Linked DNA regions of Homo sapiens: regions 2 and 3 are each linked to region 1. Evidence: fine-mapped expression QTL. A gene starts in region 1. Each other region holds a variant in brackets. All regions are shown on one strand. Distances are from middle to middle.

Region 1 (4,282 bases):
GGTACATAAGGGAGGGAGGGGGAAGTAACACGTAGTAAGCACCTACTGTATGCTGGGCATTGATGAATCCTTGGTTTATTCCTCATAATAATTCTAGTAGACATATACTGCCCCACATCCCATTTTACAGACAAGGAAACTGAGGCCCAGGGAGGAGAGAGGATATTGCCTAGCCATTTGCTAGCAGAGTCAAAGTTCAGGGTTTCTCTGCCTCCAGAGTCCATGCTTCTTCCTAAATAACTGCTCGAGGCTTAACAGGGTCACTATAGTCGTGGCTCAGTTCTCCAGGAGTGGGTGTTTTCCTTTTAATGGAAGACAAAGTCTAATGCCTGACCCCAGTTGTAGAGATGGCATTAGACATTAGTGAGCTGCGGGAAGAGGACTTTCTGGGAATAGGGACTCTTCCAGGAGCCCATTGACAAAGCCTCTCTCCTTGACCACACTTTAGACAGGCTCCTCTGAGCCCTCTTTTCCACTGGGCTTTGTCCTTGGGCCTTGTCTTCAGCCTGCATAGTCCAGCTGTAGCAAAAGTCCTGCCAAGTCAGTTTAGTGAGGATCCCTCACCCTCCAGCATCCTGATACTGGATCAAATTCCTCATCCCAGATCAATGTCTGATCACCCTGGCCTGCCTTCAACAAGAATCCCCCTACCCTGATGTCTCCTGTAGTCATTTTCTGTCCCCGACCCCCTCCCTCTGCTCGCTGGCTATAAATCTCCAGCCATCTTTGTTGTATTTGTGGTTGGGTCCCATCTCTCTCCCCAGGAGGTCTTGATAACTACCCCCCTACCACAATAGTCCTGAATAGAGCCTTCCTTACCAGTTTAACTAGTGGCAGAATGATTTTGTCCTTAACACCATGGGAATGTCCCTCCCTCTCCTGTAGGAGATGGGGGCTGACAGGGAAAGGGGCTCTTTCCCAGGAAACGCAGCTTCTTCATGGCAGTTACACAGGCTGGAAACCCGGGGCCTGGCTCCCCTTCCTGTCCCCCAGCCCACATCCAATCGGCCCCCACATCCTGAAGCTCCCCCTTTTGAAAACAGTTCTCACGTCTGTCCCTTTTGTCTGCACTGCCGCATCTCCCCCAGGCTGCCCCTTCTCGGCCCCCTGCCTGCCCCAGAATCACCCCCTCTCCACTCAGCACCTGAGGGGTCTCCCAAGCTCCAAACTGGCCTGTCGCTCTTCTGCCCAAAAGCATCTCATGGTTGCCGCAAGCCCACGTGTGGCGATGGGACCTATGGGCCTGCTGGCCTCTGCGCTCCGGCCGCTGCACCTGGCATCTGCTGTCACCTCTGCCTAGAGCACGCTTCCTGGATCTCTTGTCATTTGAGCAGCCTTTAGGAGGTGTTCTCTGGTGCCTGTTTGAACTCACACAAGACCCCCCTCTTTCCCCGCCACAGCTCTTGGCCCTGTGTTTGTCATCATGAGGCACCCTCGCCTCTCCTCACCTGATGGTGCTGGGTTTGTAATCACTCCCCAGCCACATCACTGGTTCTTCCCTCTAGTCCTGCAAAGTGTTTATCACACCCATGTTACAGATGAGAAAACCAGGACCCAGAGAGGCAGAGGGATTCACACACTGTCATGGCACCAGGGAGCTGTGATGCTAGAACGGGACCCCAGATCCCTCAGGCCCACACGCCCCTCCTGGACAGGGGTCCCGAGATGCTCTGGGTGGCTGACCTGTGGTGAGAGGCGCCGGGTCCTCAAGAAGAAGCCGAGGAGGCAGCCCACGATGACAGACAGCACAGACAGGATGAGGAGTCCATTCCGCCTGCACACGTCCCTCCCCCGTGCCAAGATGGCATGCGGCACCATGGTGAGCCTGGCCTGCTGGCAAGGGGCACAGCACCATTCCACGCATGAGAGCCCGGCCGGGGGCACAGGGTCTGGGCTGAGGGCTCTAGCCCCTCAGCAGGCAGGTGGTCGGAGTTGCTAAACACCAGTCGCCAGCCCCACGGCCATGCCCGTGTGGCCGCCTTAGAGGGAAGCCACAATCCTATTACCAGCTGCATCATTAGGAGCTGGGAGCAGATTAGGGCCTGGGAAATTAGAGCAGACCACGTGGTCTAGGAGTTCAGGCCTCAAAGCCAAGCGTTCCTCTTAAACAGTTGAGTGGACCAGGTACTGGAAGGAACAAGAGGAACATTTGCTTGGTTGGTTTGATCTTTACCCCTGCTTCCTTCCAGAAAGAATCAAAAACAAGACAGTAAGATATCAGTTTCCCTCAACATTAATTAAGCATTTACTATGCACCAGGTGCCATTCTAGAAGAGTGTTACATGTACTGGCATATTTAATCCTAACACCAATCCCAAGAAATAAGTACTATTAATATCACCATTTTACAGATAAAGAAACTGAGGTGGGTGGGTGCATGTGCTGCGGGCCAGGCCTGTGCTGGCTGCCTTAGCTATGCCAATCATAGGGAATTGTCCCAAAGATCCCAGGGTTCCCACCTTCATTTTTCAGAAAGGGAGGCTGAGACCCCAGAAGCCAGTCCCTTGGCCATGGTCACAGAGGTCAGAAGTCAGGGCTAGGCCAGTCTGTTTCCACCACATGAACAGGCAGATAGGTTCAAGGGTGCTTGGCAGTATTGTGGGGAATGTAGATTCGAGTCCAGGGGACCTGAGTTCAAAGGTGGGCTGTGCCACTCACCGGGAAATGGGACGTAGATGCTTCAGGGCTGTTTCAAGCCTGGTGCTGGGCACCCTGCAGGCTCTCTGGGCCTATTATTTTTTAAAGATGACAGAGCCCAAGAGACCCACATTCGGGTCCCAGCTCTGCCACTTACTAGCTGTGTGACCTCAGACAAGCATTTCATCTCACTGTGCCTCAGTTTCTCCATCTGTAAAATAGAGATGATAACAGCATCTACTTTGTTAGGGCTGGTACAAAATTCCACCCAGAGGGTATTTGGAAACGCAGTGTGAACCCTGGTGTGCTGAACAGGGGAACGGACTCTTAGGGTCATTATCACACTTAGTGCTTTGGAGAATAGGTGTCTTTTTGCTATTTCTTGTGGCCTGGCCTGCCCTGCCCTGTAAAGCCTGGGGGAATTAACCCTCGTCTATTTCACCAGAGATCTGTAATCTCATTAGGAGCAGTCAGGCAGCAGGCAGCAGGGAATGGGAAGTGCAGTCTGCAGTGAGGGTGGGAGGTAAAGGGTGGGGTGCACACAGGGGCTTCCTCCTCCTGACATAGGAGACAGGGGCAGAGGATGAAGAGGACGGGCCAAGTGGGGCATAGGGGAGAGGTGGGGAGAGGGGACTGGGGCACAGGCTCTGAAGCCATGGACAGAGCTCCTGACTGAGAAGATTCTGATCCCAATTTAATCAGCTCTGTGACCTTGCCGTCTCTGGGTATCAGTCTTGTCCTTTTTAGAATGAGAGAAATGGGCCCAGGTACCTTTGTCAAAGGAACTTCATTTCAACAAACCAATCTTCCAAAGCCCCTGCTCTTTGCAGTAGCTTGGGGTGGGGGGTGGGGGTGAATACAAGTCTGAGAGTTTTTTTTCCTCTGACTTTGACTCTTAAAACCAAAAGTTTCTTGCTACACCTTCAACTCCAACAAATGCCTCATTTTCCAAATAATCAGGTGGTTAGTTACTTCCCAGAAGAGAAAATATGCTAAGTAGGTATTTGGATTTGGGTTTTGATCAACTCCTGGGCTCAAACAATCCTCCCATCTTGGCCTCCTAACGTGTTGGGACTGCAGGCATGAGCCACCACACCCAGCCCAGACCTGGCCTTTAGCTGTGCCATGATATAGGTGAGTCTTGCTTTCTACCACAGCTCCATGACTCCCATTCCCAGGACGTGCCCTATAGCCACCACTGACTCCTCTCTCCCACAGGCTGAGCCTACCACTACCTGCCTACCAGACTACAGCCATTCTTTCCACTGTTCCTACGGTCTTCAACAGGAGAATTTCAACTCACTCTAGCAAATGTTCTTATAGCACCATTTAGTGTGCCACACCCCCTGGGTACTAGAAACACAACAGTGAATCAGACAGTACCTGCCCTGCCTTCAGGAAGCTTATAAGAAAGTGGAGAGACCCCAAGAACGGACTAATTCACACTAAAGTGTAAGTGACTGATAATGAGTTTACTAAGAATATTTGCAAATCAAATCAAGTCTCCTGGGTCAGAACCCTATAATAGTTCACCATTGACAAAGAATCAACTGCCTTTTACAATGTCACTAGATGTGCAAGACAATTTTTCCATAATTACATCAAAAGGAAGTTTGGGAAATGCTGGACGAAACAAAAAGTTAAG
Region 2 (4,000 bases), 48 kb before region 1:
GGCAGGATAAAGAGCCCGTGGAGCACCAGCCCGCACACCACGGTGACTGAGTAGAAGCCCAGCTTCTTGCCGACGGCCCTGGGGTCGTCCATCTCCAGGATCTTACCCGCAATGAGGAACACAATGCCGAAGGGGAAATACCTGGGGGCGGCGGGGCAGCCAGGCTCAGGAACCAGGCAGGCAGACACACCCCGGCCCCAGCCCCGCATCGCTGCGCGGCCTTCCCCCTGAGCTTCCTGGGGCTCCTGCGAGGACAGAGCGAGACTGCCAAGGTGCCCGGCCCAGGCTCAGCACATGGCGTCCTTCATACCGTTACTTCCACCGCCCCAGCTCCAGACAACCTCTGCCACTCCTTCCCCCGCCCTGCCTTCAGGAGGCCCCCATTTCAGGCCCAACAACGCCAGAGTCTACACAGTGCGCCTGGGCAGCCCTCCCTCTGCGTTCCCCACTGAGCTCCTGGACTCTGAACTGTGGGCCGAGGACTCTGAACTGTGGGCTAGTCCTTACCGCCAGCTTTCCTTTCTCCAAAAGCTGAGCTGATAAGGCTCCATGTGATGGAGAAACTGAGCCCAGGAGAGCAGCAGAGCCGGGCAGAGCTCTTAGACCAGGCTGGAAGGGGCAGGCCCAGGGCCGGAGCCAGGCCTGGCTGGGGCTGGGGGACCCATGGAAACACATGTAGCTCCGGAGGCCCCGGCCCAGGGCTGAGCCTGGGCACAGCTTTCTGCTCACTTTACGGGAGAAGAGGGTGGGGTCTTGTCTTCCCTCCATCCACCCAGGGCTGGCCGGGGTGAGGTGGGTAAATGAGGAGGCTTACCACACAGCCACCGCCACGATCTTCATGACCGACTCATTGAGGCACTGGCAGAAGCTGACCAGGGGGGCCCCGCTGTCACCCATGCGGCCCAGCATGATGCCTGCGGGTCAGGGACACAGTGCTGTGGTAAAGCAGGGACAGACCCACAGGCCCACATGGGTCTCAGCATGGCTGGCTTCCCAGCAGCCTTGATGCTCCAGCACTCCCCCCACTCCCCCCACTCTCTCTCTCCCTCTCTCCTCCTCCACTCTACTACCGATCCCACAGTGCTCTCACGTCCTCCTCTCTCACCTTCCTCCACGCAGCAGCCAATGTCACCTCCTCAGGATAAAAGTGCTCCCTGCCAAGTGCACCCCTGGCTTCGCTGTGCGCTTAGGCCATGACAAGCTCCCCGCTGCCTCACCCAGCTCGATGCCTCAGCCCCACTCGAGTGGGCCCTGCCTGCCTCTCCCTCCTGCTCCTGCCCATCTCACTGTGCCCTGGCACCACTGGCCTTCTTTAAGTTTCTGGAAGGAGGGAGTCCAGCTCTTCACTGCCTCAGGGCCTTTGCGCAAGCCGTTTACACAGTGCCCCAGGCACTGGCTGCCCGCTCTCCAAACAGCTTGGAAGCCATCCCCGATCCCCTTTGCAAACTCCCATTTATTCTTCAATATCTCACCTCTTAGGGCCTATTACAACATAACTGTCTGGGTTTTTTCCCGTCTCCTCTGCGAGGTTAGCTCAGCGAGAGCAAGAACTGCATCTCCTTAGCTGGAGCATGTTAGACGCACAGTGGTCAATGGTGAGTGAGGACTAGGGCCTTTCCTGATGCTCCTGGCGCCTCCCCCGGCATTCTAGGCCTTCCTCCCCAGCTCGCACACACCAGGAAAGGGTGGTGTGGGAACGGCTCCGTGGGGTGAGCTCTGTCAGGCCAGTCCTGAAACAGGGACTGAGTGGCTGCCCTACCTCCTGGTGAGACCGACGTGGGGAGCAGAGCACTCTCTACAGCTGCCCTCATGAGGCCCACTGTCATGGTGCTGGGGCTCAGCTAGGGAGGCAGGGTGGGATTCAAACCCTGGCCTGTGGGACACCAGAGAAGGGCTCTTTCCCTGTCCTGAGAAGCCTGAGCCACACAGTCCATGGAGCAGCTACCCCGTGGTGACGGAGTGAGGTGAGGGCCCTGCCAGGG[T/C]GGGTAGGAGAGGCTGGAGTTGGAGGTGACCCTGGGCCTACCCCGCCCGCCTGTCTTCCTGCCGCCTGGCTGATGCAGACCCAGACTCCCCTGCCGGCTCCGCCCTCCCCGGGCTCCACCACCACCACGCACGGGCTTCCTGCCCCTCCTCAGGCCCATTTGGATTTTCCCAGGGGCATCCGAGGACTGGCTGCTGGGAGCCAGTGTGCATGGAACCCTAGTGTGGCACGGGGGCTCCCTCACGGCAGGGCCAGCAGGACCTTAGCACCAGCCACATCCCAGGGATGGGGTGGGGAAAGGAGGCTGGGTTGAGGGAACCAAAGAAAGCCCTGCTCGGAGCCGCTGTGCTAGTGTGCTCACTCACACACGCGGGCAGACACTGGTATCTGCACCAACAGGCACAGGCACCGGCAGATGTGGACACTGACAGGCACAGGCACACACAGAAGCAGGTGCACACAGACACAGGCACGGAAAGACCAGGCACACGCTGATGCGGGGACACAGGAATGCAGCTGCACCCAGACATGAGCACAGGCAGATGTGGGCACACGCAGGCATGAGCACACACAGACGCAGGTGCACATAGACACAGGCACAGGTAAGCCAGGCGCATGCTGATGGGGGAACACAGGGACACAGGTGCACACAGACACAGGCACGGAGAGGCCAGGCACACACTGATGCAGGGACACAGAGATGCACGTGCACACAGACACAGGCACTGGCAGATGTGGGCACATAAAGGCATGAGCATACACAGTAAGCCACACCCTGCCTTGGTACACTCACACACCCTGCCTTGGTACACTCACACACCCCGCCTTGGTACACTCACACACCTTGCCTCAGTACATTCACACCGCCTCGGTACACTCACACACTCTGCCTCGTTACACTCACACCGCCTCGGTACACTCAACTCGCCTTGGTACACTCACCCTGCCTCGATACACTCACACACCCCGCCTCGTTACACACACACTGCCTTGGTACACTTAAACCCGCCTCAGTACACTCACACAACCTGCCTAGGTACACTCACACACCCCAGCTCAATACACTCACACACCCTGCCTCGGTACACACACACAACTTGCCTCGGTACACTCAACTGCCTCGGTACACTCACTCCACCTTGTTACACTCACACACCCCACCTCGGTACATTCACCCCGACTTGGTACACTCACACACACTGCCTCGGTACACTCACACACACCACCTCAGTACACTCACACCACCTTGGTACATTCACATCGCCTCGGTACACTCACACAACCCGCCTCGGTACACTCACACAAACTGCCTTGGTACAGTCACACCACCTCGGTGCATTCACACACACCACCTTGGTACACACACACCCCGCCTCAGTACACTCACTCCACCTCAGTACACTCACACAACTCGCCTCGGTACACTCAACTGCCTCAGTACACTCACACTGCCTTGGTATGCTCACACCCCCCCACCTCATTACACTCACACACCCCACCTCAGTACATTCACCCCGCCTTGGTACACTCACACACACCACCTCGGTACACCCACATGCCCCACGTTGTTACTTTCACGCGCCTAGCCTCGATACACTCACACACCCTGCCTTGGTACACTCAAACCATGCATCTGTACACTCACACACACCGACTCGGTACACTCACACTGTCTCGGTAAACTCACCCCATCTTGGTACACTCACACACCCTGTCTCAGTACACTCACACCACCTTGGTACACTCACACATCCCGCCTAGGTACACTCACACGCCTCGCCTCGGTACACTCACACACCCTGCCTCGGTACACTCACACACCTTGCTTCATTACAATTACACACCCCACCTTAGCACACTCACACACTCCACCTCGGTACACTCACACGCACATAAACCCCAGCTCAGTACACTCACACCCCATGCCTCAGTACACTCACACACTCCACTTCGATACACTCACACACCCTGCCTTGGTAAACTTACACACCACTTCAGTACACATACCACTTCGGTACA
Region 3 (4,282 bases), 54 kb before region 1:
AGTGGGAGGAGGTGTCCTGGGGTCGTGCTCTTCCCAGACTCCTCACACTCCACCCCTGGGAGGAGGGTGGAAGGAGTTCAGGAATGGGGCAGTGGGAGCAGGTGCCCTCTTGACGCTGAGTGACCTGGGGGAGGCCTGTCCCCTCCCTGGGCCTTAGTGTCTTCAAGGGCATCATGGTGCAAGCCCCTCCAGACCCCAGAGCTGTATCTTCTCCCCAAGGCATATCTGGAACAGGCTGTGTTGCCAGGGCCCTTCTGTGTGCCCTGCAGGCCTCCTGGAGGCAGCCTGGGGTGTGAGAATGAGGGAGACCATCTGGAAATGTCCCTGGGCACGCCCCTGTCTAAAGCAAAGCATTCACCACGGGGAGCCAGACTGGGAAGGAAATCTGTTTCTTCTTTGGGGACTGATCTCAAGGCCCTGCCTGCAGAGCAGAGCCTAGACCATGGCAGAGAGGTCTGTCCACACTGGACGATGCCCAGCTGCCCTGTGGTTATTGAGACAGGCTCCTGGGTAGGCTAGCTTATACTCTGTCTTCTGCATGTGACAGCTCAGATAGGACTGTCCTTACTGCAGCCACCAGGACAGGCTTCTCTGCACTCTGGCTGCCCATACAGGCCTGTCCACACACTGGCAGCCTAGACAGACCTGTCTACACTCCAGCCAAATGGACAAGCCTGTTAGATTCTGGCCACCTGCATAGGCCCGCCCATATCCTGGCTGCCCAGACAGGCCCGTCTGCACTCTGGCCGCCTGTATTAATTAGCCCAGTAGCTAATATCATATTTGCTGGCTAGCATAAGGTGTTGAAGCCCACAAGAAGTGAAAAACAAAATACCTTTATTTAGTTAACACTGAATTTGCAAACACAGAAAGGAATAGAAAACCTGACTCCACTTGGACGCACAGGCCTTTGGGGAGTTCTGACACCAGGGCCCCATCGGCAGCTCCACCAGAGCATCCTGGCTGCACCTCCTTCCCGGAGTCCTGGCTTGCCTACCTATTCCATGGGAGGTTGGCCTGGATGTGTCAAGGGGGCCTTTCAGCTCTAGTAAAGACATCTGTCTCCACATCCAAGGAGCTTTGCAAAAGACACGTGGCAGGACAGGAGACTGGACGCACTGTGGCCTGGGGAAGGCAGCGGGGCTTGGCCCTGGGCTGCTCCCCTTGGGGAGAACTGTGTGGCTGAGGCCACCTGTTATGGGGTGGGGCCTGGGCCTGGACACAGCTGCAGGCTGCCCTGTCCTCCAAGAGGAGAGGCGGGGCTTGAAAGATTTGAGTTAGTGTCTTGACCTTAACGTGAGACCTTGGACAAGTGTTTTCAGCTCTCAGAGCCTCAAGTCTGTCATCCAGAAAGTGGGGCCGGATAACCCCTGCCTGCCGCCCTCACCGGGCTCACACCGGGGAAACTGTCACAGCGGGGCCTCAGGCAATGCCGGGCCCATCACTCCCTAGATGGGGCTCCCCCATGCAGCCTTTCCCTTCTCTGAGATACATTTTCCGTCAAGCGGGGTTAATTCCAGCCTCTCAAGGGTGAGAAGAATGTGTGATCCTGGCCCCTGCCGGCTGCTCAGGAGGGTTGGAGAGTCGAGTTCCTGCCTCAGGACCCTGCCCCTGGAGGCCTCGCCTGCCCCTGCAGCTCCGCAGGCTCAGACATTGGTCTCCAGCTCACTGATCTGGATGGTGCAGTGGTTCAGACTCGCAGCGGGCAGCTCCTCATCCTGCTCCACTTGAACGGGGACGTGGTGGGGGCAGGTGGGGCCCAGGGTGAGCTCGGAGGCCTCGGCTACACTCTTCACACAGCCATTCTGCTGGGCTGCCACGATCTCCTGGAGGCTCACTGGCTTGGTCTCGCAGGGCAGCAGTTTCTGGTGAAGGGAAACAGGTCTTTGTAGCAGCAGGAGGGACCAAGGTTAGATACGAGGGAGGACTGAGGGCCAGTGGGGCAGAATGAGCTCAGGGCTAGGAACCACAAGATGGATTTTCCTGCAGACACGCTGTGTGACCTCGGCAGGTCACGGCCTCCCTGGGCTCCTGTTCCCAAGCGTCCTGCCTCCCACTGGAGCTGGCTTAGTAGAGGAGGGGACTTAATCCACAGGGTCCATCTGGGGAATTGGTGGATCCCCTGCCTGACCTCAGCTTCTTCCCCATGATGTGGGGACAGCCTTCTCCATTTGCCTGTAGAAGGAGCCTGAAGCCCACACAGCCTGCACAGACCTACAAATGCTCACATGTTGGCTAAACTGGACAGACCATCCCGACACGAGGGCGGG[G/A]AATTTTATCATATCTTGTTCTACTGTTCCTCCTGTGTCTATATCAGCGCCAGCCACAGCGGGTGCTCAATAAATAGATGTTAGAGGAATCAGTCATTCTGTAACGGATGAGGAGACCGAGGCCCAGAGGCATGGAGGGAGGGATTGGCTGGAGGCTGCCGAGCTGGTTGGTGGAAGATCTGGTGCCCTGCCCACCCTGCGTGGCTCCACCCTCCTGGCAGCCTCTGGATCTCACTGCTCTCACCTCGGTGCCTGTGTCCCGGGCAAAATCCTTCCGACATATATGGGCCATGATCCCCGCTGCCAGCGCATCACCCAGCACGTTAATCATGGTGCGGAAACGGTCCCTGGTGAGCCAAGGTTGGGGGTGAGTGGTGGGCACTTGAAGGGGAGCTGGAAGAGGGCAGTGCTCAACCCAGCACAGTACAGCACGGCCGGTGACCAGCTGTCATGCAAAGCCTGCAGCCAGATGGCTTCCTGGCTCCTCCCAAGCCCACCCTTTGGCATCATTGAAGCAGCTTCTTGGCATGCAGCTGTGGGTTCCACAGGTCCCCATGCTTAGAAGGGTTAGGTTTGGTTTAATCCTCTGCTGTTTCTGTCTTGAAATTCTTTATAGGTTTGTTTTTTGTTTGTTTGTTTGTTTGTTTTTTGAGACAGAGTCTTGCTCTGTCACTCAGGCTGGAGTGCAGTGGCGCCATCTCGGCTTACTGAAACCTCCATCTCCCAGGTTCAGGTAATTCTCGTGCCTCAGCCACCTGAATAGCTGGGATTACAGGCACATGTCACCAGTCCCAGCTAATTTTTTCTTTTCTAATTTTTAGTAGAGATGGGGATTTTACTGTGTTGCCCAGGCTGGGCTCTGGAATTCCTGGGCTCAAGGAATGCTCCTGCCATGGCCTCTCAAAGTTCTGGGACATATAGGCGTGAGTCATCATGCCTGGCCTTTACAGTTTTTGGACTGGGTTCCACATTTTCATTTTTGAACACTGGACCCCACAAATTATGCAGCCAGGCCTGTGCTAATGAGTAGGGCACTCCCACAGTGCCAAGCGGGGCAGTCCCCAGCCTTCTACCCTGGGGAAGGGACTCAGCCGCTCACCCTGATCCCTGCTGACCCTGAAGTCAGCCCCTCCCAGAGGGCTAGAGCTAGAGGCAAAGTCCACTCACAGAGCCCAGTCAACGGCAATGATGAGGGTGATGTCATCGGTGGGCAGTCCCACGGAGGTGAGCACGATGACCATGGTGACGAGGCCGGCCTGGGGGATGCCAGCTGCCCCAATGCTGGCTGCAGTGGCTGTGATACTGCAGGGGGTGGGAAGGGGAAGAGGAGCAGCAGGAGGGGCAGGGTGCATTGTCAGGGTCTGGCTCCAAGGAAGAGGTTGAGTGTCAGGGCCTCTGGGACAGCCATTTGGTGCGGGGGGTGGGTAGGAATGCCACACCAGGGAGCTCTCGGGGTCAAGTCCCTCCTCACAGTCCTGAAGCCCCATGGACCCCCATTCCTGGCCTCAGGAGAATCCCTGGGAACTGTGCAAACACCTGTGTCTGGAGCTGTGCCTCTGTGGGTTCCAGGAAGCTATATTGCTATGGGGCTGCCCAGGGACTCTGACTGACCACCACATGGCTCTGCCTGCCTGCCTCTGGGGCCTGGCCTCCAGGGTCAGACCTGTGTGCTTGGCTGGGCTGTGAGGCCTCCGTCAGCCTCAGCCGCATCCCAGCACCCCTTCGTTGGCTCCTGCCACACGGGCGGCCTCTCCAAGGTCCTGAGTCCTGTCCCTGGCCTCCGCTCGCCCTGTGGCCACCAGCAATGCCCTCCCTCCCGGGCTGTCCTCCAGGCTCGGAGCTCCCAGCCCTGGCCCTCTGCCTGCTGTGCTCCGAGCCCAGGCTCGCTCGCTTCAGATACCCCTCAAGTCTGGGAGCCTGGGAATCCCCAAGGCCCCCAGCCCCCGCCCCATCCACCCAGGTGCAGTGTCAGGGTGCACCTGATGGTGATGATCTGGCCAAAGTCCAGCTCG

Alleles and levels. Alleles are on the strand shown, and positions count from the first base shown. SD is a standard deviation of normalised expression in the study named. Not every link is listed here.
As copies of A replace G in region 3, the expression in tibial nerve of the gene that starts at base 2,007 in region 1 goes up (moderate effect, 0.60 SD a copy in GTEx).

What was found.
Region 2: its variant is fine-mapped to the expression of SLC1A7 in tibial nerve (GTEx, PIP above 0.99). The same link has a PIP of 0.9 or more in testis.
Region 3: its variant is fine-mapped to the expression of SLC1A7 in tibial nerve (GTEx, PIP above 0.99). The same link has a PIP of 0.9 or more in breast, esophagus mucosa, sigmoid colon, subcutaneous fat, sun-exposed skin and testis.

Annotation. Positions count from the first base shown.
Region 1 is chr1:53,140,632-53,144,913 of GRCh38, forward strand. SLC1A7 (solute carrier family 1 member 7) reads right to left here and starts at 2,007. Exons shown (of 11, transcript NM_006671.6): 1 at 1,684-2,007. The coding sequence starts at 1,818.
Region 2 is chr1:53,092,647-53,096,646 of GRCh38, forward strand. SLC1A7 (solute carrier family 1 member 7) reads right to left here. Exons shown (of 11, transcript NM_006671.6): 6 at 815-914; 7 at 1-141. Among named protein-coding and RNA genes, the nearest start is that of PODN, 32 kb to the left of the region's middle. RefSeq lists an enhancer at 2,240-2,777. The variant T/C (reference allele first, on the strand shown) is at 1,983.
Region 3 is chr1:53,086,363-53,090,644 of GRCh38, forward strand. SLC1A7 (solute carrier family 1 member 7) reads right to left here. Exons shown (of 11, transcript NM_006671.6): 8 at 4,250-4,282; 9 at 3,438-3,572; 10 at 2,515-2,617; 11 at 821-1,865. The coding sequence ends at 1,647. Among named protein-coding and RNA genes, the nearest start is that of PODN, 26 kb to the left of the region's middle. The variant G/A (reference allele first, on the strand shown) is at 2,271.